Linked DNA regions of Homo sapiens. The protein of the gene in region 1 interacts with the protein of each later gene in a pairwise test. Each region holds a gene or a part of one and is shown in the gene's direction. Other genes may lie near its edges.

Region 1 (2,530 bases):
CTGAGTTCAGTCCTGTCCGTCTCCAGCAGACACCGGCTTCCCAGGGGTGGGAGGCTCCCCTGAGTTCAGTCCTGTCTGTCTCCAGCAGACGCCGGCTCCCTGGGGGCGGGAGGCTCCGGGCCTCCCCAGAGGTGTTTCCATTCTGCTCCCATGTGGCCTCTTCATTTTGTCGTTGTCCCCTCCTCATATACACTCTCTTTCATTTTTAAACCATAATTACTGTAGACAAATTTAAAATACAAAAATGTTAAAAAGCAGCAAGAACAATCTTAATCTTTTTTTTTTTTTTTTGAGACCGTCCTGCTCTGTCCCCCCGGCTGGAGGGCAGTGGTGCAGTCACGTCTCACTGCAGCCTCAACCTCCTGGGCTCAAGCGATCCTCCCGCCTCGGCCTCCCAAAGTGTGAGCCGTGCATTCAGCCCAACCTTAATCTTCTCACCCAGAGCCACCAACATTAATATTTTGGCCGCCTTTTCTTCCAGTCTTCCCTTTTTTTTTTAAATAAGCTTTTATTTATTTTTCCTTTTCTTTTTTTAATAGTTGAGGTGGATTTTTTACCACCGTAACCTCATACACAAAGTACCACCATACTGTAGACCCTTCTAGGTCATGGCGATGTTCTCTGCGCCACCAGCCACACGTGGCCCCGAGTGTGTGGAACGCTTCTGGTGCAGCTGTGGCTCTGACGTTCGTTGAAATAGCCGCTGTGGCCCCTGGCTGTCCACTCTGGGCCTCTCCTGCTGCCTGGAGTGTGTGGTGCAGCCTTGGTCCCCACCTGCGCTCTGACAGCCTTCATGTCTGTCCCCTTCCAGCTGCTCCCGGTGTGACCGCGTCCTTCCCTGGCCGACCCGAAGGAAGCCTTCTGGTTGTCTGCCACTTCCTCCTGTTGGACTGCCTGAGAGAGGGGAAGAGAGAGACCTCGGACCTGCATGTCAAGATGGATTTTCCCCTTTTATCTCTGCCCTCCTCCACTCCCTTTTTGTAACTCCCTTACAGCCCCCAGACCCTTCTTGAAACGAGAGCCAGCAAGCTGAGCACAGACCAGCAGCGACCTCCCTTCCAGCCCCCAGAAAGCTCGGTCACTTGAGTGTTTTCTAGAATCCTGGGGTGCTCCCGGGCCGCTCTCAGAGAAGTGGCAGGTTTCACGTTCAGCCGTGTGGCGGATCGTGTGGCTTCCAAAGCCTTTTACAGCCCCCGCCCCCCATCCCGTGGTCTGTCTGCAGGAACTCTCCCGTCTGTGAGAAGCCTCTTTCCGAGTCGACCTCCCGGCCACCCCGGCCCTGTGCCTGCTCGGAAGAGCTCACTGCCAGCTGCGGCCTGGGCACCGCGGGCCATGTGTGTTTGCATGAGGAACTCTTTAGTGGCAGACACCTAAGAGACGGCTGCGGTCACCCCACGCCTCCGCGGCTCAGGAGCCGTCCTGGGTGCATAGGACCAGTTTCTGTGACTTTTCTCCAGTTGGGCATGTTGACAGACATGTTTCCCCTCCTCCCACCCTCATTTTCTGGTCCTCGCGACTGAGAGCCAGGGGCGACATCATGACCTTCTGTCCCGGCCGCCTTAGCCCCGGGCACAGGGAAGGCAGCTGGGCCGTTTCTGTCTGTGTCCCATCCTGCTGTCCTTCTGTCCTGGATGTTTCATGGGCCCGGGGCCCCCCAGGGAAGCTTACCCCTCCTGTGCTGGGTGGAGGCCACGGGACACCTCAGGTGCCACCCACCTTGGCCCTAAAACAGCCACCAGGAAAGCAGCCGGAGAGCCGGACAGCAGGCAGCCTGTCTGGGTTCCTGAGGCCTGGGGGTGGCAGACGAGCCCACGGCGCCGTGGTCCCAGCAGCAGGGTTGTCAGTCGGAGCATCCTGGGGCTCCCTGGCTCCTGGCCGTCTGTGAGGTAGGCGCAGTACCGTGTATCGTAGGTAGCAGTAGGAACGGGGGCCGCCGCGGCCCTGCAGCCGCTCATGGCGGTGAGGTGTGTGCCAAGCCCACCCGGGGTGCAGGGCGTGACGTGTGGGGAATAAATAGGCGTTGTGACCTCTGTCTGTCTTCGTGTTGACCTTGGCGCCACCGATACCCTCCAACCCCAAACCTCGAGAAAACCCCCGACGCGGAGTTTGTGGATCAGCTGGGCTGCTTGTGAGTGAATCCCCGCGACGCCGGAGCCGCACTTCTTGGGTCACGGGTCACGGGTCATGGGAGGTTTCGGACAGTCAGCCTCTACCCTCTGCTGTCTCCCTTCCCTCCGCCTCCGTCCCCAGCTGCATCCCGGTGTAGAGGGTCACCCCAGGGTGGGGTGAGATGCCTCGGTCCTCAGCAGAGAGTGATCGTATTGTCTGTTGCTTTGCTTTGCTTTTTTTTTTTTTTTGAGACTTTCACCCTAGATGCCCAGGCTGGAGTGCAATGGCGCAATCTCGGCTCACCTCAACCTCCACCTCCCGGGTTCAAGTGATTCTCCTGCGTCAGCCTTCCAAGTAGCTGGGATTACAGGCATGCACCACCACGCCCAGCTAATTTTTTGTATTTGTAGTAGAGACGAGG
Region 2 (4,002 bases), on another chromosome or scaffold:
CCCCAATAGGTTATGGGTGTCATGACTATAAGATATGTCATACGCTTACAAATCCATTCAGCTAATTCTTCATAAAATTATATTTTAAATGTAATTTAAATCTTATCCATGGTGTAAAGTTCTGATTTCCTGGATGGCTGATGTTTATTCCCCTTACAGCACTATGGTAAAATATAAGGACGGCACATGTTTTGTGGTTTGTCCTTATAATGTCATTTAAAATGGAGGTTTTTGTAATGCAGGAAAACAAATACATGAAGTCCAATCCATCTACAGCCATACCACCCTGAATGCACCCAGTCTTGTCTGAAGTCCAATCCTAGTTGCTGTTAATGTTGTCAAAAATAACTCTTGTCTTCCTGAACTCCAACATAGTTGTCATTTATTCTTTTTTATTTTTAATTTATGTTTTGTAAAAATATAAAATTTACAGAAAAGTTGCAAGATTATTATAATCAACTCATATGCTTTTCACCTAGATTAACTAATGTTTAGAGTTTTGCCACATTGATTTCATACCCACTATTCTATTATATAGCCATATTCTCTTGGATAACCCCTGTATGTTTATTAAATTTGGGGAATTCAACAATGAAAAATGCAGTTGTTTAATATATAGCTTATATTCAAATTTCCCCAGTTGTCCTAATAATTTCCCTTATAGTTTTTTTTCTGATTCCAGGATCATGCATTACATATAGTTGTCAATCCTATTTAATCTTTTTTAATCTGGACCAGTTCTTCACTCTTTCTTCGTCTTTCATGACACTGGTATTTTTTAAGAGAATGGACCAGTTGTTTTGCAGAGCGTTCATCAGTATAGGCTGTATTTTTAAATACTTTTTTTTCACTCAACACTTATTCACAGTGACTCATGCCATGCAATATGTAGGCTTTAGGGATGTAAATACTAATGAAAGAGATGATTTCAGCCTTGAGCTCACAATCTAGTTAGACAGACTCAAATGAATCACTAATTTGAAATGATAAGTACAATAACATATACCTACAGAGGGTTCAACTAATCTGTCTGGGGCAGTTGTGGGAAAAGAAAAGGGTGATAATATTTGGAAAATTTTGTTTTCTTTTTCTGGTAAGAGTCCTGAAATAATGTTCTTGAAATTCTTATGCATTGCGTGTATTACCACACTAGCCTATAGGCTTTTATTTCATAACATTGAGGGAGTGAATATTATCATTCTTTTATTTATATTTTATGTTTTACAACTTAAATTGGTAATGTTTTTTATTTTTAAGTGCTAGGCCTGGCAGCCTATCTCTGGGAACTGACTCGGTCAAAGACTGGGGGTGAACGTGGAGATGGTCCTAATGTCAAGGGAGAATTTCTGCCAAATCTGGAGCCTGTTAAAATACCAGAAGCAGGTAAGTTATTCATTAAAAATGCAAATTATGGGGTTTCTGTTTTCAAAAATACTATATATTTTATAATATAGAGGTACCACTACTGCTAATATAATTTAACAGAGTTCATATATAAAGATTCTTTGAAAGATAGTTCAGTCCCCAAAAGCCTGACTAATAAACAAGCACCATCATAGATCCTACCACATTGGGTCAAAGCCACATTCAATTATAAAATGTGAAGGTATTTTCTTACTTTTTAGTATCAGTTCCTAAACCAACAGCTAGTAATATCAGATACTTTTATAAAGGTCTGCTTTTAATAAATACCTAATGAATTTGTAACAGATATTCACTGTATGAAACATGCTGAGGCAATTAAGTAGGCTCTAATCCAAGCTCTAACAAAATTTCACTGACTTTGGGCAAATTCCTTATCTTCTAAACCCATATTTGCTCTTATAAAAATGGGTCAAAATCAAATATATTAAAATTTGAGTAATCAACTTAAGTACGTTTTACACATGTTTTTTCCAAACTTCTAGGCATTAGTTATATGAGCTTCTGAATTTAATATAAACACTTAGTGTTTAGGAAAGAAATTATCTTGCATTAGTCTACTGCTTTTGCTCTACATTCCTGATCCATTCCATTAGAATATTTAGATTAAAAATATTTTTCAGGCTATGTTCAGGAACCTATTCAACATATACTCATAGGAAGATCATTGCTTTAAATACATGTTATTAAAAAATAAAAATATAAAATTATATGAGCATTCAATATAAAAAATAAGAAAAAGGCACAAGATAAACATAAGGGAGAAGGAAAAATATACTTAATAAAAGACAGGTATAAGTCTTTATTTAAGGGAAATAATTCAACTAGTAAATAAAAGAGATTTTCAACATATCTATGAATAGAGGATCCCCTAGTTTACATAATGTTGAAGAAAATGGGCAAAGCTCAAGTATACACAATAAAAAATAGGAACAAGACAGGACAGATATTGAATGTGTAATATAATTAAAAGTGGATACATTCTTGAGCTCTAAACAATTTTCAAAATTTGATGCAATGTTTGATATGCTAGCAAAACATAAAATCATTTACTATACCACAGTAGTAAATGAATATTTAAACATCATAACATGGATGAACTTTTAAAACTTGCCAGAATTTTCCATCAAAAGTATTTATCATTTAGAAACAAAAAAAAAAGCTATTGTTTGTTTATTTGTATTTGGCTTTTCTAGATTCCTCAGTCTCTTCTCTTTCTCTCTCTCCTCCTCTCCCTCTCCTTCTGATCCCCGTTTTGCCAAATTGTGAGAATCATTACTATTTCTTTTTAACACTTCATCTATAATAATAATGGCTTGCAACCAGTGTGACGATATAATTTATTGGACAAACTGGAATATTTTTAACTGTGCAAAGAGGCATTATTGATAATTATACTAGAACCACAGGTGAAAACAGAGACAAATGGTTAACCTACTTAAAACAACCATATAAAGAGTAAACTAATCAAAAACATTTTAGCATTTTCCCATAACAGAAACAAAACAAATATAATACTAGCCTTTCTATTTATGCCACTTAAGCACTTTCAAATGTGTCATTACTGTTTGAGCTATCCTATATTCAAAACATTATTTCAAATTTCTTTTGTTTCCTAAGTTTTATGTTTGCTTATGTTTGGTTAGTTGGATTTTTTTTTTCTAAAATTACATGCAGTTTTTAGTTTCTAGTTAAAACTTTCTTTAAATAGGTTCATTTGATCAAATCATTTCGAACTCAAACTCTTTCTTATACACTAGAAAAATGAGTGGGATTTTAAAATATTGTTAATATACCTGAAAGCCTACCTTCAAAGTCTCTATAGCGGTTTAACTGGATATAAGCCAGAGGGTTACCTTGTTATAGTTCATTTCATAAAACCAAAACTATGCCTTTTTTCAACCCGTAGTGTCATCATAAAAAGTTCTGCTAAAAAATACTCTCAACTATTATGTTTATCTTATAGGTGAAGGGCAACCATCGGTTTAAATGAAGACAAGCTGAAACCATACATGCAGTCTTTATGTTGGAAACTTCACCAGTAAAATTCTCTCAATAAAGTTTCACAATTGTCTGCAAAGAAGTCTTGTGCAACTTATGTCAAACTAGGAATAATTAGGTGTTTCATGCTATTGAAAATTGTATCTTTTTTGAAAATTTATATTTTGTTTGAGCTGGTATATAGAGATATAATTTTATGTATTGATTTTTCTCTCCAGAAACCTTGCTAAATATGCTTATTAATTCCAAAAGTTTCTCTCTAGGTCCTTTTTGATTGTCAACATATACAATCATGCCATCTGTGAGTAATAATACTTTTCAGTCTGCCTTTTAAAGTATGTTACTCTTCATTTCCTTAATTCATTTTATGACATTGGACAGACTCATCCAGTACAATGTGGAATTGAACTGGTGATAGTGGACACCCTCATCTTATTCCTGATAAGAAATGGAAAATATTCAACATTTTACCATGATTTACTGTAGATTTTACTTGCAGATATGCTTTATCAGAAGTTCCTTCTATTTCTAGTTTCCTGAGAGTATTCTTCTTGGATATATGTTGACTTTCATCGACTG
Region 3 (3,500 bases), on another chromosome or scaffold:
CATAACAACCTTAATATTTCTTTGACCTAAAATTTTGTTTCTTTTCCTTCTTCTAATTATAAAAGAAATGAAAATTATTTAAAACATTTTCATGGGCCTTTCGAAGCATTGTGGGCCCAGGGCACTGTGCCTGTTGTGCCTAGTGCATAAGTCAGCCCTATTCGAAGTAGGGCAGAGTGGAACTGTGCCTTGTGGGCTTTGCCCACCGTGCCAGGTAAAGCTCATCTCTTGCCACCAAATGATCACACCAGCTACCGCCTAGGTTGTCCTCACCCTGTATTAGACACTTAGCATTTTTCTTTATTTTATTTTAAAAATAATTTTTTGTAGAAATAAGGTCTTACTGTGTTGCCCAGTCTGGTCTCAAACTCCTGGCCTCAGGTGATCCTCCCATCTCAGCCTCCCAAAGCAGCATTTTTCATTGCACTTATTCCTCACCACAACCCAATGAAACAAGTTTTAGTCTCATTTTACGGAAGGAAAAACTGAAGTTCAGGGGAGTTAAGGAATTTTCTTTTCTTTTTTTTTTTTTGAGATGGAATTTCCCACTTGTCACCCAGGCTGGAGTGTAGTGGTGCAATCTCGGCTAACTGCAACCTCTGCCTCCCGGGTTCAAGCAATTTTCCTGCCTCAGCCTCCCGAGTAGCTGGGACTATAGGCGCCCACCACTATGCCCAGCTAATTTTTGTATTTTTAGTAGAGACAGGGTTTCACCATGTTGGCCAGACTGGTCTCGAACTTCTGATCTCAAGTGATTCACTCACCCCGACCTCCCAAAGTGCCGGGATTACAGGCATGAGTCACCGTTAAATTTTCAAAGATTAAAAAAATTTCCCAAGGTCACACAGCTAGTAATGGCAGAGGCAGGATTTTGCGCCAAGTCTGATTTACTGCAAGCCTGTGTTCTTTCTGTCATGGTGTACTGCTCCCAAGGTCTCACTCCACCCAACTGGCTGGTGCACATGAAAGAGAAGGCAGAAGAAAGGGGGCCGAGTCCCAGGGTGGCTTCCCATGGAAAGAACTCGGGGAGCCGCCCTCTGCTGGGCAGGTCTAGAGCAAATAAGTAGGCTGGCAGACTTAGGTGGCAAAAGATCTGATGCCTCAGTGATAAGAGATTTAGCTCAAGCTGGGAACAAGGACCACAAAGAAGCCAGCCAGTATCTGGGTTAACAAAAAAAAGAGTAAGTGAACAGAATAGATCTTGAAGGTCATTTGCTATTGGTTAGGACTTGGGTGGGGCCTTCAATCTTATGAACCTGAGCAGGGAAGGTTTGGAAAGACTGTAGTGCTATTTAATAATTATTCCTTTGTTTGGACAAAAAAATGGGGTAGAAACGGGAGAGAATGGGGGAAAAGCTATAAGCCATTTCCTCCTTTTATGCCAGCTTTCCTGAACTTAGTTTATTTTGTTGTTGTTTGTCCTTTTTTTCTTTTTTTGAGACAGGGCCTCAGTTTCACCCAGGCTGTAGAGCAGTGGCTCAATCACAGCTCACTGCAGCCTCAACCTTCCCAGACTCAGGTGATCCTCCCACCTCAGCCTCCCAAGTAGCTGGGATCACAGGTGCGTGCCACCATGCCCAGTTAATTTTTGTATTTTTTGTAGAGACAGGGTTTTGCCATGTTGCCCAGGTTGGTCTTGAACTCCTGGACTCAAGTGATCCTCTGGCCTCAGCCTCCCAAATTGCTGGGATTATAGGTGTAAGCCACCTTGCCAAGCATGTTCTTTTATTTGAAAGGTAATACATGCCCCTCAGAGAACAGCTTTCTAGACCTTTTCTATGTACAAACATATATATGCATATTTATAGGGTTTTTTAAAGTTACTTAAAAAAAAATACACAGAGAGACAGGGGTCTCGCTATGTTGCCCAGGCTGGACTCAAACTTCTGGCCTCAAGCAATCCTCCCACCTCAGCCTCCAAAAGTGCTGGGATTATGGGTGTAAGCCACTGCACTCTGCCAATTTACTTTTTTTTTTTTTTTTAAACAAAGATGCAGTCCTACTACATATACCACCTGGCAGTTTGCTTTTTTCATCTAACCATGTATCCTGTCCCAGTAATATTGTAGATCTCATATTCGTTTTAGCAACTGTTTCCACAATGGATGGCCTGTAATTTATTTCATCATTCCTCTCCAGATAGACATTCTAAGTATGTCTGGATTTTTTATTTTAAAATTTGATTTTAATGAGAATTCTAATAGAACACTTTCCATTTATAAAAATTCAAAAATTAAGGCTGAGAGGGGTTCTGATGCTCAGCTAGTTCAACTAACCATTCTGTCCTAGAATTCTCTCTCCAAGATGCTACGTAGCTTTTGTCCAGTTTTGCTCTTCCTTCTGTTGGGGAGACATCTGTCTTTCCCAGTTTCTGCTGTTAGTTCTCTTGTACAGGTCATGCCTTGGCATATTAGAAGACAGAATTCAAGCTCTAGGCTCCCTTTTTTTTCTCTGGGCTTTCTCTTGCAAGCTTTCCTTATCTGACATGGTTTGCCTGCTCACTTCAAAATTGTGACACCCAGGCCGGGTGTGGTGGCTCATGCCTGTAATCCCAGCACTTTGGGAGGCCGAGGTGGGCAAATCACAAGGTCAAGAGTTCGAGACCAGCCTGGCCAACATGGTGAAACCCTGTGTTTACTAAAAATACAAAAAATTAGCTGGGCATAGTGGCGGGTGCCTGTAATCCCAGCTACTTGGGAGGCTGAGGCAGGAGAATCGCTTGAACCTGGGAGGCGGAGGTTGCAGTGAGCCAAGATTGAGCCACTGCACTCCAGCCCAGGTGACAGAGTGAGACTCCGTCTCAGAAAAAAAAAAAAAAAAAAATTAAGGCTGGGCACGGTGGCTCACACCTGTAATTCTAGCACTTTGGGAGGCCAAGGTAGGTGTATCACGAGATCAGGAGTTCGAGACCAGCCTGACCAACATGGTGAAACCCCCTCTCTACTAAAAATACTGTAATCCCAGCACTTTGGGAGGCTGAGGCGGGTGGATCACGAAGTCAGGAGATCGAGACCATCCTGGCTAACATGGTGAAACCCCGTCTCTACTAAAAATACAAAAAAATCAGCTGGGCGTGGTGGTGGGCGCCTGTAGTCCCAGCTACTCGGGAGGCTGAGGCAGGAGAATCGCTTGAACCCAGGAGGCAGAGGTTGCAGTGAGCCGAGATCACGCCGCTGCACTCCAGCCTGGGCCAGAGAATGAGACTCCGTCTCAAAAAAAAAAAAAAAAAAAAAAAATTGGCCGGGCGCGGTGGCTCACGCCTGTAATCCCAGCATTTTGGGAGGCCAAGACGGGTGGATCACGAGGTCAGGAGATTGAGACCATCCTGGCTAACACGGTGAAACCCTGTCTCTACTAAAAAAATACAAAAAATTAGCCGGGCGTGGTGGCGGGCACCTGTAGTCCCAACTACTCAGGAGGCTGAGGCAGGAGAATGGCGTGAACCTGGGAGGCGGAGCTTGCAGTGAGCCGAGATTCTGCCACTGCACTCCAGCCTGGGT
Region 4 (3,500 bases), on another chromosome or scaffold:
TCTGAGTAGCTTCTAACCAGCACATAACTCCCCCAACAGTCTTTAAGTCTTTAGGTGCCCATATTTTCCTCTTTGTTCTCCCCCTTCAGACTGAGAGTTTGTAGAGAGAGGGCAACAGATCTTTTCAATACACAACTAATGCAAAATGTATCAGGTTTTTCTTGGATTTCAGCTACTCCCTGTTAAACAATCAGAGCTTAGTGAACAGTGATTCAGTGAGGAGGGAAAGCACTCAGGAAGGAGCAGGAACAAGTACAAGTTTATGAAAAGGATTAGCTAGCAAAACAAGGTCAAACTCTGCAATAGTTTGTTTTCCTCTCCCTAGTATCCCTCTTCAATCAGAAAAGAGACTGTTATCAGTTGCTGGTGTTATGACTGGGCACATCCGCCCTGGGTCAAATATGCTGCAGTCTGCAAAGCCAGCAGCAGATTGCAGTCCTCTGCAGTCCAGCCAGGCCAGCAGAACTTGTGTAGCCATGTGCCCTGTTATAGCTGTAATACTGAATTGGGAATGTTCCCTTAATGGGGCACTTGAGGGCAAAAGCAGTGAAAGCTTTTCCTTTCTCAAAGCAGACTGTTCTTCCCGTAGTGTTTTAAGAACACAGACATGTATTGGGCAAGGCAAAGCCAAAGGTGGCCTTTACAAGATTATTAAATCTGGTCTTCCAGGGTATCTAATCTGTGTGAGGACCCTGATGAACTAATTTTCTTCTAAAGTGCTATATATGTAGATATCATCATAGAGTTACACATGAAATGGCTCATTCAATACTTTTTTAGATGCCTGGAAATATTTAAGGGAGTAACTAATCAATTAGCAGCATTCCTGGGAGAACATTGTCTTGTCATTTTAACAGAAAACTCTCTTTGTGATTTTGCAGCCACGACAGCCCAACCCTGACTGGCGTTACTCTGCCTCCCTGAGAGCAGGCATGCACAGGTATGTATTTCCCTCCTCATTCACTCAGAAGTAACCTTAACTTGGTATGGCTCAGATAAACTGCATCTCCATAGGCCAGAAGCAGCTGTCAAAACTAAAAAGCTTTAGGTACTTTGCCAGGAAAATGCAATTATTTTGTCCCCATGTTTATTCCTTGAAAGATCGCAAATGGTCAGTGCCAGATGCTTATCAAGTGCTGGCATATAAGAGTCCTCTGTAAAATCACAGAAACAGGCTGCTATGTATTTTCTCCCATCAAAATTTCTACAGGGAAGTAATTTCAACCTCCTTCATCCCTCTCTACCTATGCTTTCTTTTCCTCCTTTAAAAACTGTAATTAATACTCATGCTTTGAGACTTGGGTACATTGTGCAATGTATACATACATGTTGTCTACCTTGTTTTTTTTTTAATCTCACATTGGCTATTACATCCTATTACCCTCAATAATTGATTGCTATTGTTGTTTGTGTTCACACCTATTAGAGCCTCCTCATCTTTCCCATCTGTTGCTATCTTATTGTCATCAATGACATGGTTCTTCAGAAGATGAGCCATGTAAAGGGCTCCAAATCTAGCTTACTTTAAATTAACCTAGAGTAACGGTATTAGTCTAAGACTCAGATTAAATATAATTTTGCTTTCTCTACTTTGTCTCTCTGACAGTAATTGATTAACTACCATTATTTCTGGAGGTGATCCAGTATCCATGCCATGGGGCCAAATAAAAGATTCATTATTTGCGAATGTCTTTGGAAACCAAATGGGAAGGACCAAGAAACAAATGATCACAACTATCAAAAGGATTTAATTTTAAAGAAGAAATAATCTTCAAACTTAAGCCCCTCAAAATATCTGGGCAACTATCAAGTGAATATTCACCAAACTTAGATCAGTTCGTAAAGAGAAAGCCTACAAAGTATGTGTAGAGTTAATGTGAAATTAGTTTTAGCCCATTAAAATGCATTAGATTGAAATAAATTAACATACTCTCAAGCATTACAAATGAGCAGAAATCATTACATTGGGTGCTATTTCTGATTCAGAAGCAATCAGTGAAGGGCTGAAGATTAGTAGTTGGCTTGGTAAGATGTCACATTGGAACCTGGGTCATAATTTTAGGCCAGAAACATTCATGCATATACCAGAATATTAGGTATCAGAAGAAATTCTTTATATTTATTAGAGACCAACTTGTGCTTTTGCCTGCATCTGAGCTGTTGGTGGAGACATGCAATGGGTAAAAGCATGGTTTACAGTACCAACTCTTGAAAAGTACCAAAGCTATGAGTTGTGCCTTAAAAACTACATTTGAAATAAAACATTAAAACATAACTTCCTGGACTGGGCGCGGTGGCTCACACCTGTAATCCCAGCACTTTGGGAGGCCGAGGTGGGCAGATCATGAGGTCAAGAGATCGAGACCATCCTGGACAACACGGTGAAACCCTGTCTCTACTAAAAATACAAAAATTAGCTGGGCGTGATGGCATGTGCCTGTAGTTCCAGCTACTAGGGAGGCTGAGGCAGGAGAATCGCTTGAACCCGGGAGGCGGAAGTTGCAGTGAGCCAAGATCGAGCCACTGCACTCCAGCCTGGCGACAGTGCGAGACTCTGTCTCAGAAGAATAAATAAATGAATAAAATAACATAACTTCCTTATCCCATTTTCAAATTGAAAAAAAAAAGCCAAATGTGCTCCTATTCGGGTTTCAATTAAGATATTATGAGATTTGAGTAGGGTAAGAAATAAAATAAAAATTGAAATTAAAATGCCATTTCTTTTTTGCATTGTAATACATTGAACATATTAAATGAGTTGTGAACCTAAATAATACTAATCTTTTTCGTATGTGTGCTTGGGTGTTCTCGGTCTTTCCAGTCTTGGACATCATGTAACTATTCTTTAAAAAATTCTGCTTTGAGCTGAGCTGGCTCCAGGATAGTTACACCTTCATGAATCTGACTGAGCCCACACAATTTGCTAGTAGGATCCAGGAACACTTGAAGGCTGTTAATATTTGGGGAAAAAAAACAGATAATTCTAGAGTGTAGACAAGGGGAAGAATAGTAAAAGGTCAGAGTTTAATGAGTGAATTTCTACTGGATATGTTGTTTGAAGTCAAAGAGTGAGAAAACATTGAACTTATATGTTGCCTTCCCTCTAATAGTTCAAGTTTGCCTGCTCTGTTGCCTCATATAACCCCTTTAGTCAGTAGTCTAAATTTTATTTTAGAAATTTAACTTTCAAGATAAGCAAATGTCTAGTTTAAAAGGGTCCTCTAGTCTAGGTGTAGTGGCTCATGCCTGTAATCCCAGCACTTTGGGAGGGTGAGGCAGGTGGATCACTTGAGGTCAGGAGTTCAAGACCAGCCTGGTCAATATGGTGAAAACCTGTCTCTACTAAAAATACAAAAATGAGCCAGGCATGGTGGCGGGTGCCTGTAGTCCCAGCTACTTGGGAGGCTGAGGCAGGAGAATTGCTTGAACCTGGGAGGCAGAGGTTGCAGTGAGCTGAGATCGTGCCACTGTACTCCAGCCTGAGTGACAGAGTGAGGCTT
Region 5 (4,009 bases), on another chromosome or scaffold:
CACACCTGTCATCCCAACGATTTAGGAGACCGCGGTGGGAGGATCGCTTGAGCCCCGAAATTTGAAACCAGCTTGGGCAACATAGCAAGACCTCCATATCTACAAAAAAATAAAATATTAGCCAGGCGTGGTGGTGCGCGCCCGTAGCCCCAGCTACTCGGGAGGCTGAGGCGGGAGGATTGCTTGAGCCTAGGAGGTGGAGGCTGCAGCGAGCCTGATGTTGTCACTGCCCTCCAGCCTGGTGAGAGTGAGACCTTGTCTCAAAAGAAAAAAAAAAAAAAGCAACCCAGAGTTGTGGGAAAGAACTGAGTGTCATTCTCAATGTTTTTAACCTACGTGCTAACCGCGCACCTTCTACCTAGGCTGCGCGACCTCCGCGCCCGGATCCATGGCGCCCCCTCTTCTCGACTCCCGATGCAGAGCTCCGATGCAGAGCTCAGCGCCAGCCACTCACAAGGAGCCTGGCAAGTTTTATCGAATTGGTGAACGAAGTTCGAAAGCTCTACCCTTGGAGATCCTTATTCAGTAGGTCTGAGGTAGACCTAGGAAACGCGCATTTTATATAAATCCTACCTCTGACGGCAAACGACAAGGGGTTCACGTGCCAGCTCTCCTCGGCGACGCGCTAGGCTACTCAGCGCCCCGAGCCTCGGCCTCGCATCGCTAGAACCCGGCCATGGCCGCTTCCTTACAGGGCAGCTGTGAGGAGTCCTGAGGAATTTTAGTACACGGCATATCCTCAGCGTAGTGGCTAGCACATCACAAGGCTTTAATCTTAACACTGTTGATCTTAACACTGCAACTGAGGGGGCCCGGAGAATGGGCCTGACAGGAGGGTCTGTCGGAACCTGAGGGACTGGGGATCCCGGTGCGGAGAAGCGCGAAGGGAAATCGCGTTGAGCAGCTGGGGTGGGTGCGCCTGGGGGCGTGGCCTGCGGGCCGGCGGGCGGGCGGGAGCCTGCGGTGGAGGCGTGGCACGAGGGAGGGGCGAAACCGGGTGGCGCGGAGGGGGCGTGGCGTTGGGAGGGGCGGGGGGAGTGGGCGGGGCCGAGATGGGGGCGTGCGCGCTGACAGGAGCGCCGGGGGAGTGAGAGACGCCTCCTGGCGGGAGCTGGCGGCTGTGGACCCCAGCGGGGGCGGAGGGGAAGAGGGGAGCAGGGGCGGGGAGCAAGGAGCCGGGAGGAGGGCGGCGGGCGGGCCTGTCTCTTTAAGGTGCCCGAGGCTCGCGGGCGCTGCGCTGAGGGGACGGCGGGAGGCGCGGCCTGGCCTCGCACTCAAAGCCGCCGCAGCGCGCCCCGGGCTCGGCCGACCCGGCGGGGATCTAGGGGTGGGCGACTTCGCGGGACCGTGGCGCATGGTGAGTGGGAGCGGCTGGGGGGTTGTGCAGCCTCTTGGCCTCTTGGTTGGGAAGGGGCCGGGCGCCGAGCTCGGCCCTCTAGAGGCCCGGGGCCGCGGCGAGCTTCGCGGGGGCCGGGAGAAGCCTGGGCCCGGCTGCGCGGAGGACAAAGTGGGGGTGCTGGGCGCGGGCGCACAGGCCGGACGCCGGGAGCCAGCAGCATCTCTGCGCCGCTTTGGTCCAGACCATCTCTGGGCCGGCCCGCGTCCTCCGCAGCCCGCGTCGGCCGAGCCGGGGTGGGGGTGGTTCCGGGTGCCCGGTCCCCCACACCGCTACCGGCCTCTGCCTCGCGGGGCGTCCGGCGCCTTCGGGGCCCTGGCACCGCTCTACAGAGGCTCGGCTCTGCCCTGGTCGCTGTCAGTGCCATCTCCCTTAACGAGAAACTTGGGCGTGATGTATGCGAAACAATTTTGATGCATGATGGTTTCTAACTCCTTAGGAAAAGATAAGTCCTTTAATTCTATTACCTGATTTCGACATGGTCGTAGTTACTTGAATACTTTTTCCAGTGAAATTTGGGGAGTAAGATGAATTTGTGGAACATTTCATAAGACAACCGTAAAAGATGGGAAAGGGGGGAAATCCCAGTTTTCATGGTTGTAGGATGAAAACTAGTTCCACGACAGTTAGTCTCCAAATAACCTTATTTGGCCTCCGCAAATATGTACTGGTTGCTCCAGAAATCATCCTACTTGGTATGCGGCGTTAGATACATTAGAAAATTAGTTACTAACGGTCTTTAGGGAATGCTTTGTGAGCCTCAGTAACGATCACCAGGGTTTTCTCTTTCAAAATTGACTCATACCAGGTCCAAAGCCCTTTATTCTTTTCACCCTTTTATTATTTTTCCTTTAATGTACTTTGTAACACTTAGAATAAAAGTTTAGAGTAATCATAAATGCCCCCATAAACTCACTATTTATCCCTCTTACGTCAGTAGTCATTTATTTTAATTTATTATGTTTGATAGGGAGGTGTTTTAACCTGAAGAAATGATATCTTCCCGTATTTAAAGTTTAATAACTGTATACTGTTTGGCCCCTGTCAGACTGTGTTTGTGCTAGTCTTTTTTCCTTCTTCTTTTTGAACTGTAGTATCTTCTTAATAACTTTGAAGAATGTGTGGTACTAATAGAATTAAAAGAATATCTTGGCCGGGCGCGGTAGCTCACCCCTGTAATCCCACACTTTGGGAGGCCGAGGCGGGTGGATCACCTGAGGTCAGGAGATCGAGACCAGCCTGGCCAATATGGTGAAACCCCGTCTCTACTAAAAATACAAAAATTAGCGGGGCGTGGTGATAGGCTCCTGTGATCCCAGCTACTCGGGAGGCTGAGACAGGAGAATCGCATGAACCCGGGAGGCGGAGGTTGCAGTGAGCCGAGATTGCGCCACTGCACTCCAGCCTGGGCGACAGAGCGAGACAACGTCTAAAAGAAAAAAAAAAAAAAGAATATCGTCACATTCTAATAATTACCTAGAGTTTTTAATGCAATTAGTAATTAAACAGCCTTTTGTTATTTGCTCAATTATTTAAGAAGTGACTCTGTGGACTCTACTTCTTGCTTTGAGCTGCTTTATTCTGTCTAAATAAGCCTGAATAATTTCCATTTAAAATTTTGTTTTGATTCTAAGAATTAAAATTAAATATCTTAAAATTATAATACAATATTAATAGTTTTATATGGGCTTACAGTTGAATAATGGACCTAAAATTAAAGTTGAATAGTAGCAGTGCAGTATTGAAGCTAGTTATTTGCCTGATATACTCTCAAGTTACTGAGGGTTTAGATATACTCACTCTACTTTCACAGTCACCATTTCTGGATAGTCTGAGGAACTGTAGAGTTCTAGGTCCTTGAAGATGGCTATGAAGCCATTATTATACAAAATTATTGTTTATTTTTGAATGTTTATATAATCTTTCATTGAGAATGATCTTTAAATGATCACTCAAAAGTTTTTTGAAGGCCAGGCATGGTGGTATTGTCTGTAGTCCCAGATAACTGGGAGGCTGAGGTGGGAGGATCACTTGAACCCAGGAATTGAAGGCTGCAGTGAGCTATGATCACACCACTGTACTTCAGCCTGGGCAACAGAGCAAGACTCTAAAAAAGAAAGAAAAAGTATATTGACACAAACAATGAGTCTTAGTTTATGTTTTGTTTCTCATTTTTATATTTGTTTTTACCCTAGCACTTGCCTTTGAATTAAAGTTGTGTTTGTTTGTTTAGTTTCCTGGGAGTTACTGATCATCTTCTTTGAAGAAACATGAAGTTACACTATGTTGCTGTGCTTACTCTAGCCATCCTGATGTTCCTGACATGGCTTCCAGAATCACTGAGCTGTAACAAAGCACTCTGTGCTAGTGATGTGAGCAAATGCCTCATTCAGGTAGGACTAAGAGTACTTTTATTAATATCAAAATATATTGTAGAGCAGAAACATTATGTTTATATACAGATATAGAGTGCATATATCATATAGAGTAAGACCTGAGTATTGGGTCAGGGCCTGAGGTACTGAATCATGACACACAGGTCTGGATTTTTACCCTCATAGCAATCAATATATATAGGCAAGGTTAGATTCAAGAAGTTCAATACTGAGTATA
Region 6 (2,612 bases), on another chromosome or scaffold:
ACACGAACCAGCTGCTGGATGTCCTGGACCGCGGGCTCATCCTCCAGCTACAGGGCCAGGACCTTTATGCCATCCGCCTGTGTCAGTGCAAGGTGTTCTGGAGCGGGCCTTGTGCCTCAGCCCATGACTCATGCCCCAACCCCATCCAGCGGGAGGTCAAGACCAAGCTTTTCAGCCTGGAGCATTTTCTCAATGGTGAGGGCCCAAAGCTGTGATCCTCCTGGCTGCCTCTTGCCCAGGGCATGGTTCCAGCCTCTGACTAGGGACCTTGATTTTGATGCAGAGCTCATCCTGTTCCAAAAGGGCCAGACCAACACCCCACCACCCTTCGAGATCTTCTTCTGCTTTGGGGAAGAATGGCCTGACCGCAAACCCCGAGAGAAGAAGCTCATTACTGTACAGGTACATCTCCCCTATCCCAAAGTCGGCCTTGGCTTGAAAACTGGGGAATCCTGGGGCTAGGCCCTTGCCCCAGGCTGGAGGCTCAGGGCTCCCTGAGCAGTGTGAACTTGGCGGCCAGAGACCATCAAGGCTCAGAGCCGGAGAATGCGGTCTATTACTCACCCCTGATGGCTGTCCTCATGCACAGCTGGATCTGGCAGCCCTGCCACAGGTCTCCCTGTCTCATCTCCTCTTTGCCTCCCAGGTGGTGCCTGTAGCAGCTCGACTGCTGCTGGAGATGTTCTCAGGGGAGCTATCTTGGTCAGCTGATAGTATCCGGCTACAGATCTCAAACCCAGACCTCAAAGACCGCATGGTGGAGCAATTCAAGGAGCTCCATCACATCTGGCAGTCCCAGCAGCGGTTGCAGCCTGTGGCCCAGGCCCCTCCTGGAGCAGGCCTTGGTGTTGGCCAGGGGCCCTGGCCTATGCACCCAGCTGGCATGCAATAACAAGGCTGCAGACGGTGACTGGCCCTGGCTTCCTGGGTGGCGGTGCGGACTGATGTGGAGATGTGACAGCCCCGATGAGCACCTGGCTGGCTGCAGGGTCCTACCTCTGGGTTTCCTGGAAGTGGATTTGGGCCAAGAAGGAGAGGGAGAAAGGCCCGAGCCCCTGCCTTCCCGGGCCTTTCTCTCCTGGGCTGTCTCTGGTCTGGTCAGCCTGGCTCTCGGGAAATTCAGCCATGAGCAGGGAAAGAACTCTCCCAACCCTGGGGCCTAGCTGTATAGGAGGAATTGCCTAAGGGTGGCCCACTCTTGTGATTGCCCCATTTCCTCTGGCAACAAAAGCCAGAGTGTTGTGGGCCAAGTCCCCCCACAGGGCCTCTGCAGGGCATGGCCCTGATTTCCCTGGTTTGAGACTCACTTCCTCATCTCCCTGTCCTCTGAGATAATATGAGTGAGCACTTAGGTATCATATCAGATGCTCAAGGCTGGCAGCTACCCCCTTCTTGAGAGTCCAAGAACCTGGAGCAGAAATAATTTTTATGTATTTTTGGATTAATGAATGTTAAAAACAGACTCAGCTGTTTCTTTCCTTTTACTACTACCAGTTGCTCCCATGCTGCTCCACCAGGCCCTGTTTCGGATGCCAACTGGCCCACTCCCCAAGCACTTGCCCCCAGCTTGCGACCATTGGCACTGGGAGGGCCTGGCTTCTGGGCTGATGGGTCAGTTGGGCCTTCATAAACACTCACCTGGCTGGCTTTGCCTTCCAGGAGGAAGCTGGCTGAAGCAAGGGTGTGGAATTTTAAATGTGTGCACAGTCTGGAAAACTGTCAGAATCAGTTTTCCCATAAAAGGGTGGGCTAGCATTGCAGCTGCATTTGGGACCATTCAAATCTGTCACTCTCTTGTGTATATTCCTGTGCTATTAAATATATCAGGGCAGTGCATGTAAATCATCCTGATATATTTAATATATTTATTATATTGTCCCCCGAGGTGGGGACAGTGAGTGAGTTCTCTTAGTCCCCCCAGAGCTGGTTGTTAAAGAGCCTGGCACCTACCCGCTCTCACTTCATCTGTGTCATCTCTGCACACTCCAGCCCACTTTCTGCCTTCAGCCATTGAGTGGAAGCTGCCCCAGGCCCTTACCAGGTGCAGATGCCCAATCTTGATGCCCAGCCATCAGAACTGTGAGCCAAATAAACCTTTTTCTGTATAAATTACCCAGCCTCGGGTCTTCGTTTACAGCAACGCAAAATAGATTAAACCCCCATAAATGTTCAAGGATACCTTGCCCCACAGCCTCGTCCACAGAATATATTGTCACTGTTTGGATTTTTGCCAACCTGACAGGTGAGATAGTATCTCAGTGCCACTTCTCATTATCAGCAAGGCTGAGTAGCTTTTCACATGGTTAAGTGGCCTGTACAGATTTTTTTAAATAATTTTAGAATGGTTTTAGATTTATGGAAAAGTTCCTAATAGAGTTCCTATGGACCCACACTTTCTCCAATTGTTAACATCTTACATTACTATGGCACACTTGTGACAATAATGAAACCATGTGGACAATTACTATGAACTCAACTTCTTTATTTGGATTTCATGAGTTTTTCGGATATCCTTTTTCTGTTCCAGGATACTATCCAAGATATCACATTACATTCACTTGTCACATCTCCTTAGACTCCTCTGGTCTATGACAGTTTCTTAGACTTTTCTT
Region 7 (3,500 bases), on another chromosome or scaffold:
GCATGCTTCAGAAGGGATGTGTTTTATAATTGCATAAGGGCAAGATTTATGGCATGTAGATAACGTTAAGGTTGTTTAGACCTGAGGGTGAGATTTATGGTAAGTATGTGCTCTTATACATGCAACAGTAGATGAAATAGAAATCTTAGAGGCATTTCCAGAGCTGGGATTAATCAGAAGTTAATACAGTGAAATAATAACTAAGACGGAATTTCTTTAGCCTTCAAAACTGTGCAGTTGGGGTGGACATAAAATGGGACAGTGAAAGCATCTCAGAACAGAAAGTTGGGGAGGGGACACCTGGGTACCCAGGGCAGGGTGTCCAGTGGGGAGTTATATTTTTTCACTCGAATTAAGAATTGTCAGCATGTGGTGATAATAAAAGCAGACCAACTTGTAGTAGGTTTTATTATTGCTGCTCATTCTCTACAGACTGTGCAGCCTTCATTGCCTGTACATGGGTTGGGCTTGCCCACTACTCTTCCCTTGTATGCCATTGAAGAATGACAAATTCAGGATCATGGCTTAGCTTAAAGCACTGAGTAGGGGCTTTGTATGTGCTAGGGAAAAGAGGCTACCTGTCCACCAGACTCACAATCGACATGGAAATTTTTTTAATGTCCATTTTTATGAGTGGAACCCAGGGAATTCTGTTATTTGAGACTCTTTAGGGAAAAGGTATTAATGGATTCTTTCCTTCCTCATAAGGAATTATAAATTTCTTGATTTGAAAGGTACAGAAACAAAAGCCTTCATCTTTTTCTCAAAGTCATTTTCTTTCTGGATAATTTGGAGGATCAGTTGAGTGTTCTCAAGGGTTCTCCTTTCTTCAATAATTCACCCTAGTCATGGAGAGGTGAGACCCTGAATAACACTTTACTAATGAAGTTTTGGTTGGGGCAAAATATTTTAAATATTTCAAAAACAAAACTGTGACAAGTAGGTGGATGCTTAGAAACATGATTTAAATTGATAACATCCTGGAGACCCTCATGTGATATCCCCCAACATTATACCCCAGATTCTTGCCTGACCCTAATCTCTTAATTTATACACCTTTTATGAGTAGGAACGCTGTGGTACTGAGATATAAGCAACGACTTCCTAAGTGACGTTGTGTTGAGTGGATTTGTTTGCCTTTCAGTTGTGAATAAGAGCTACATTTTATGATGTCATGTGGTTCTGGCAGACTGACAGTTTTCACAGGGTAATGCTCCCTGGTGTAGGGTGACTCATGGGAAAATCCTAGGCAGACAGCATTAACAAGCTATAAGCTGCCAAGGTCCTTTGGGGCAGGAACATGAGAGCAGTGCTAGACCCAGTACCTTGAAATTTCTTTCCATTTTCACCTGTTTATCTTTTCTTCAAATCGCTGATGTTTCTCTACCAAGATGGACACCCTTACCTGTGGTCTCCATATAATATCTTTCAGCTTCCTCTGACCCAGAGATCTTCAGATATCTCCTCCTCTCTCTAAGCATCCTCAGGTTCTTCTTAATTTATGCCTAGTGTTCCATTATTGGAATGCTAATCATGTAGAAGTTATTTATATCTTACTGCTCAAGGTCATCACCAAAGTCTGAATGCAAAAATTCGAAAAGTTCAACCTCAGGTATAAATGGGTTAACTCTTCAAATGCACTAGCATCCTCTCTCCTTCAAAGCAATCTTCCATCAGGATTCTTGCTACTTCATTTAGATATGTGTTTTTCTCTCCCTTCTTTCACTGGCACACTTCCAGAAAGAAAGGTCTGCATTTGAATCTTGCCTCCTGCAGACTCCCAAACCTCTTGTATCTATTGGTTCCCAATTTTTCTTCCCAAGATTACTAGCAATTGTCTGATCGTGGAAGCCAACATTTCTCTGTCTCCTGCCTTATTGTCAGCTTTTAGCTCTGCCAACTTCATTATACTCTTCTGAGTCTATAGAACTCCTGGACTTTAGGTTGATTTTGCTATTTTTGCTCTTGGCATCTGCATTGTGGGTTCATGAGGCTTCTCTTCAGCTTCGTGACTTTTCACATTCTTCATTCTTTTTCTTGGAGAGCTCATTCACTCCCAGGACAGCAGCCATGCCTCCAAGAAGGTGACTCCTAGATCTACATCTGTACAATTTTCCTGAGTTTTGGAAGTACTCTTGGCTAGAGATATTTATCTAAAAATAACTGTCATCATCTCAATTATTATACATGTGAAACTACCATTTGTTTGTATGCTATTTTAGTCTGCTTGGGCTACTATAACAGAATATCATAAACTAGGTAGCTTATACATAACAGAAATTTATTGCTTACAGTTCTGGAGGCTGGGAACTCCAAGATCAAAGTGTCAGCACACATTTGCTGTCTGGTGAGGGCACACTTTTTATTTCGTAGATCATGCCTTCTAGCTATATCTTCTATGGTATAAGGGGAAAGGCAGCTTTCTGGGCCTCTTTTATAAGGGCACTAATACCATTCAAAAGTGCTCTCCCCTCATGATCTAATCACCTCCCAAAGGCCCCACCCTCTAAGACCATCTGATATTGTTTGGATTTGTGTCCCTGCCCAAATCTCATGTTGAATGATAAGAGGGGCCTGGTGGGAGGTGATTGGATCATGGGGGTAGATTTCCCCTTTGCTATTCTCATGATAGTGTGTGAATTCTCATGAGATCTGATGGTTTAAAAGTGTGTGGCTCTTTGTTGTTTGCTCTTTCTCTCTCTCTCCTGCTCCCCCATGGTAAGACATGCTTGTTTCCCCTGAGCCTTCTGCTATAATTGTAAGTTTCCTGAGGGCTCCCATCCTTGCTTCCTGTTAAGCCCGCAGAACTGTAAGACAATTAAACCTCTTTTCTTCATAAATTGCCCAGTCTCAGGTAGTTCTTTATAGCAGTGTGAGAATGGACTAATACACGCTCACATTGGTGGTTAGATTTCAACATATGCATTTTTCGGGGAGACACAAACATTCAGACCATAACATATCCTTCATCCCAATTTGTTCATCTTTTCCCCATTCACTCACCCTTTATATAAGACCAAGTTTATTTTAGTTCTGCTACTATCCAATTGTGTAACTTTAGGCAAACTTGTCAAGCCTCTGGGCCTGTTTTCCCATTTATAAAATGTAAAGGATTTCGGAATCTGAGTCTATAAATATACCTTGACCCTAATACATGCTAATTCATTGACCTGAACAAATTATGCATTTTCTCTAAGCCTCAGTGTCTTCATTTAAAAATGAAAACAACAATATTTAACTCATTGGGTTAATGTGAGGATTATGTGAGGAAAATATATTCATAAGGTGCATAGTAGAATGTTTGCACGTCATACTTAATACAGTAGCTATTATTCTTCCTGTTCCTGGGCTTGATATCTTGGAAACCTTTTTGATTTCTTCTTTCTCATATCTAGATAATGGCCAAATCTTACCAGTTATTCCTTGGTAGTGTCTTGATAGCAACTTTCCCACTTACTACAAGGCACCATGCAGGATACTTTATGCATGTTGGTTTTCAT

Evidence for each region.
Region 2: the proteins of SGTA (region 1) and PAGE3 interact in binary tests that used the Homo sapiens proteins (3 or more experiments, as listed by UniProt).
Region 3: the proteins of SGTA (region 1) and SMAGP interact in binary tests that used the Homo sapiens proteins (3 or more experiments, as listed by UniProt).
Region 4: the proteins of SGTA (region 1) and PCDHA4 interact in binary tests that used the Homo sapiens proteins (3 or more experiments, as listed by UniProt).
Region 5: the proteins of SGTA (region 1) and TWSG1 interact in binary tests that used the Homo sapiens proteins (3 or more experiments, as listed by UniProt).
Region 6: the proteins of SGTA (region 1) and IRF5 interact in binary tests that used the Homo sapiens proteins (3 or more experiments, as listed by UniProt).
Region 7: the proteins of SGTA (region 1) and C3orf52 interact in binary tests that used the Homo sapiens proteins (3 or more experiments, as listed by UniProt).

The regions. Positions count from the first base shown.
Region 1 is NC_000019.10:2,754,215-2,756,744, reverse strand, and holds the end of SGTA (small glutamine-rich tetratricopeptide repeat-containing protein alpha), read left to right. Parts: intron 1-811; 3' UTR 812-2,030; downstream 2,031-2,530. UniProt on the Homo sapiens protein: Co-chaperone that binds misfolded and hydrophobic patches-containing client proteins in the cytosol. Mediates their targeting to the endoplasmic reticulum but also regulates their sorting to the proteasome when targeting fails.
Region 2 is NC_000023.11:55,257,915-55,261,916, reverse strand, and holds the end of PAGE3 (P antigen family member 3), read left to right. Parts: intron 1-1,257; coding exon 1,258-1,383; intron 1,384-3,388; coding exon 3,389-3,411; 3' UTR 3,412-3,502; downstream 3,503-4,002.
Region 3 is NC_000012.12:51,260,416-51,263,915, reverse strand, and holds part of SMAGP (small cell adhesion glycoprotein), read left to right. Parts: intron 1-3,500. UniProt on the Homo sapiens protein: May play a role in epithelial cell-cell contacts. May play a role in tumor invasiveness and metastasis formation.
Region 4 is NC_000005.10:140,978,068-140,981,567, forward strand, and holds part of PCDHA4 (protocadherin alpha-4 isoform 1 precursor), read left to right. Parts: intron 1-881; coding exon 882-940; intron 941-3,500. Other genes in the region: PCDHA1 (protocadherin alpha-1 isoform 1 precursor), read left to right, coding at 882-940; PCDHA2 (protocadherin alpha-2 isoform 1 precursor), read left to right, coding at 882-940; PCDHA3 (protocadherin alpha-3 isoform 1 precursor), read left to right, coding at 882-940; PCDHA5 (protocadherin alpha-5 isoform 1 precursor), read left to right, coding at 882-940; PCDHA6 (protocadherin alpha-6 isoform 1 precursor), read left to right, coding at 882-940; PCDHA7 (protocadherin alpha-7 isoform 1 precursor), read left to right, coding at 882-940; PCDHA8 (protocadherin alpha-8 isoform 1 precursor), read left to right, coding at 882-940; PCDHA9 (protocadherin alpha-9 isoform 1 precursor), read left to right, coding at 882-940; PCDHA10 (protocadherin alpha-10 isoform 1 precursor), read left to right, coding at 882-940; PCDHA11 (protocadherin alpha-11 isoform 1 precursor), read left to right, coding at 882-940; and 4 more. UniProt on the Homo sapiens protein: Calcium-dependent cell-adhesion protein involved in cells self-recognition and non-self discrimination. Thereby, it is involved in the establishment and maintenance of specific neuronal connections in the brain.
Region 5 is NC_000018.10:9,333,564-9,337,572, forward strand, and holds the start of TWSG1 (twisted gastrulation protein homolog 1 precursor), read left to right. Parts: upstream 1-1,209; 5' UTR 1,210-1,357; intron 1,358-3,629; 5' UTR 3,630-3,666; coding exon 3,667-3,789; intron 3,790-4,009. UniProt on the Homo sapiens protein: May be involved in dorsoventral axis formation. Seems to antagonize BMP signaling by forming ternary complexes with CHRD and BMPs, thereby preventing BMPs from binding to their receptors.
Region 6 is NC_000007.14:128,947,927-128,950,538, forward strand, and holds the end of IRF5 (interferon regulatory factor 5), read left to right. Parts: coding exon 1-195; intron 196-283; coding exon 284-402; intron 403-646; coding exon 647-892; 3' UTR 893-2,112; downstream 2,113-2,612. UniProt on the Homo sapiens protein: Transcription factor that plays a critical role in innate immunity by activating expression of type I interferon (IFN) IFNA and INFB and inflammatory cytokines downstream of endolysosomal toll-like receptors TLR7, TLR8 and TLR9.
Region 7 is NC_000003.12:112,096,389-112,099,888, forward strand, and holds part of C3orf52 (TPA-induced transmembrane protein), read left to right. Parts: intron 1-3,500. UniProt on the Homo sapiens protein: Has a role in LIPH-mediated synthesis of 2-acyl lysophosphatidic acid (LPA). LPA is a bioactive lipid mediator involved in different biological processes, and necessary to promote hair formation and growth.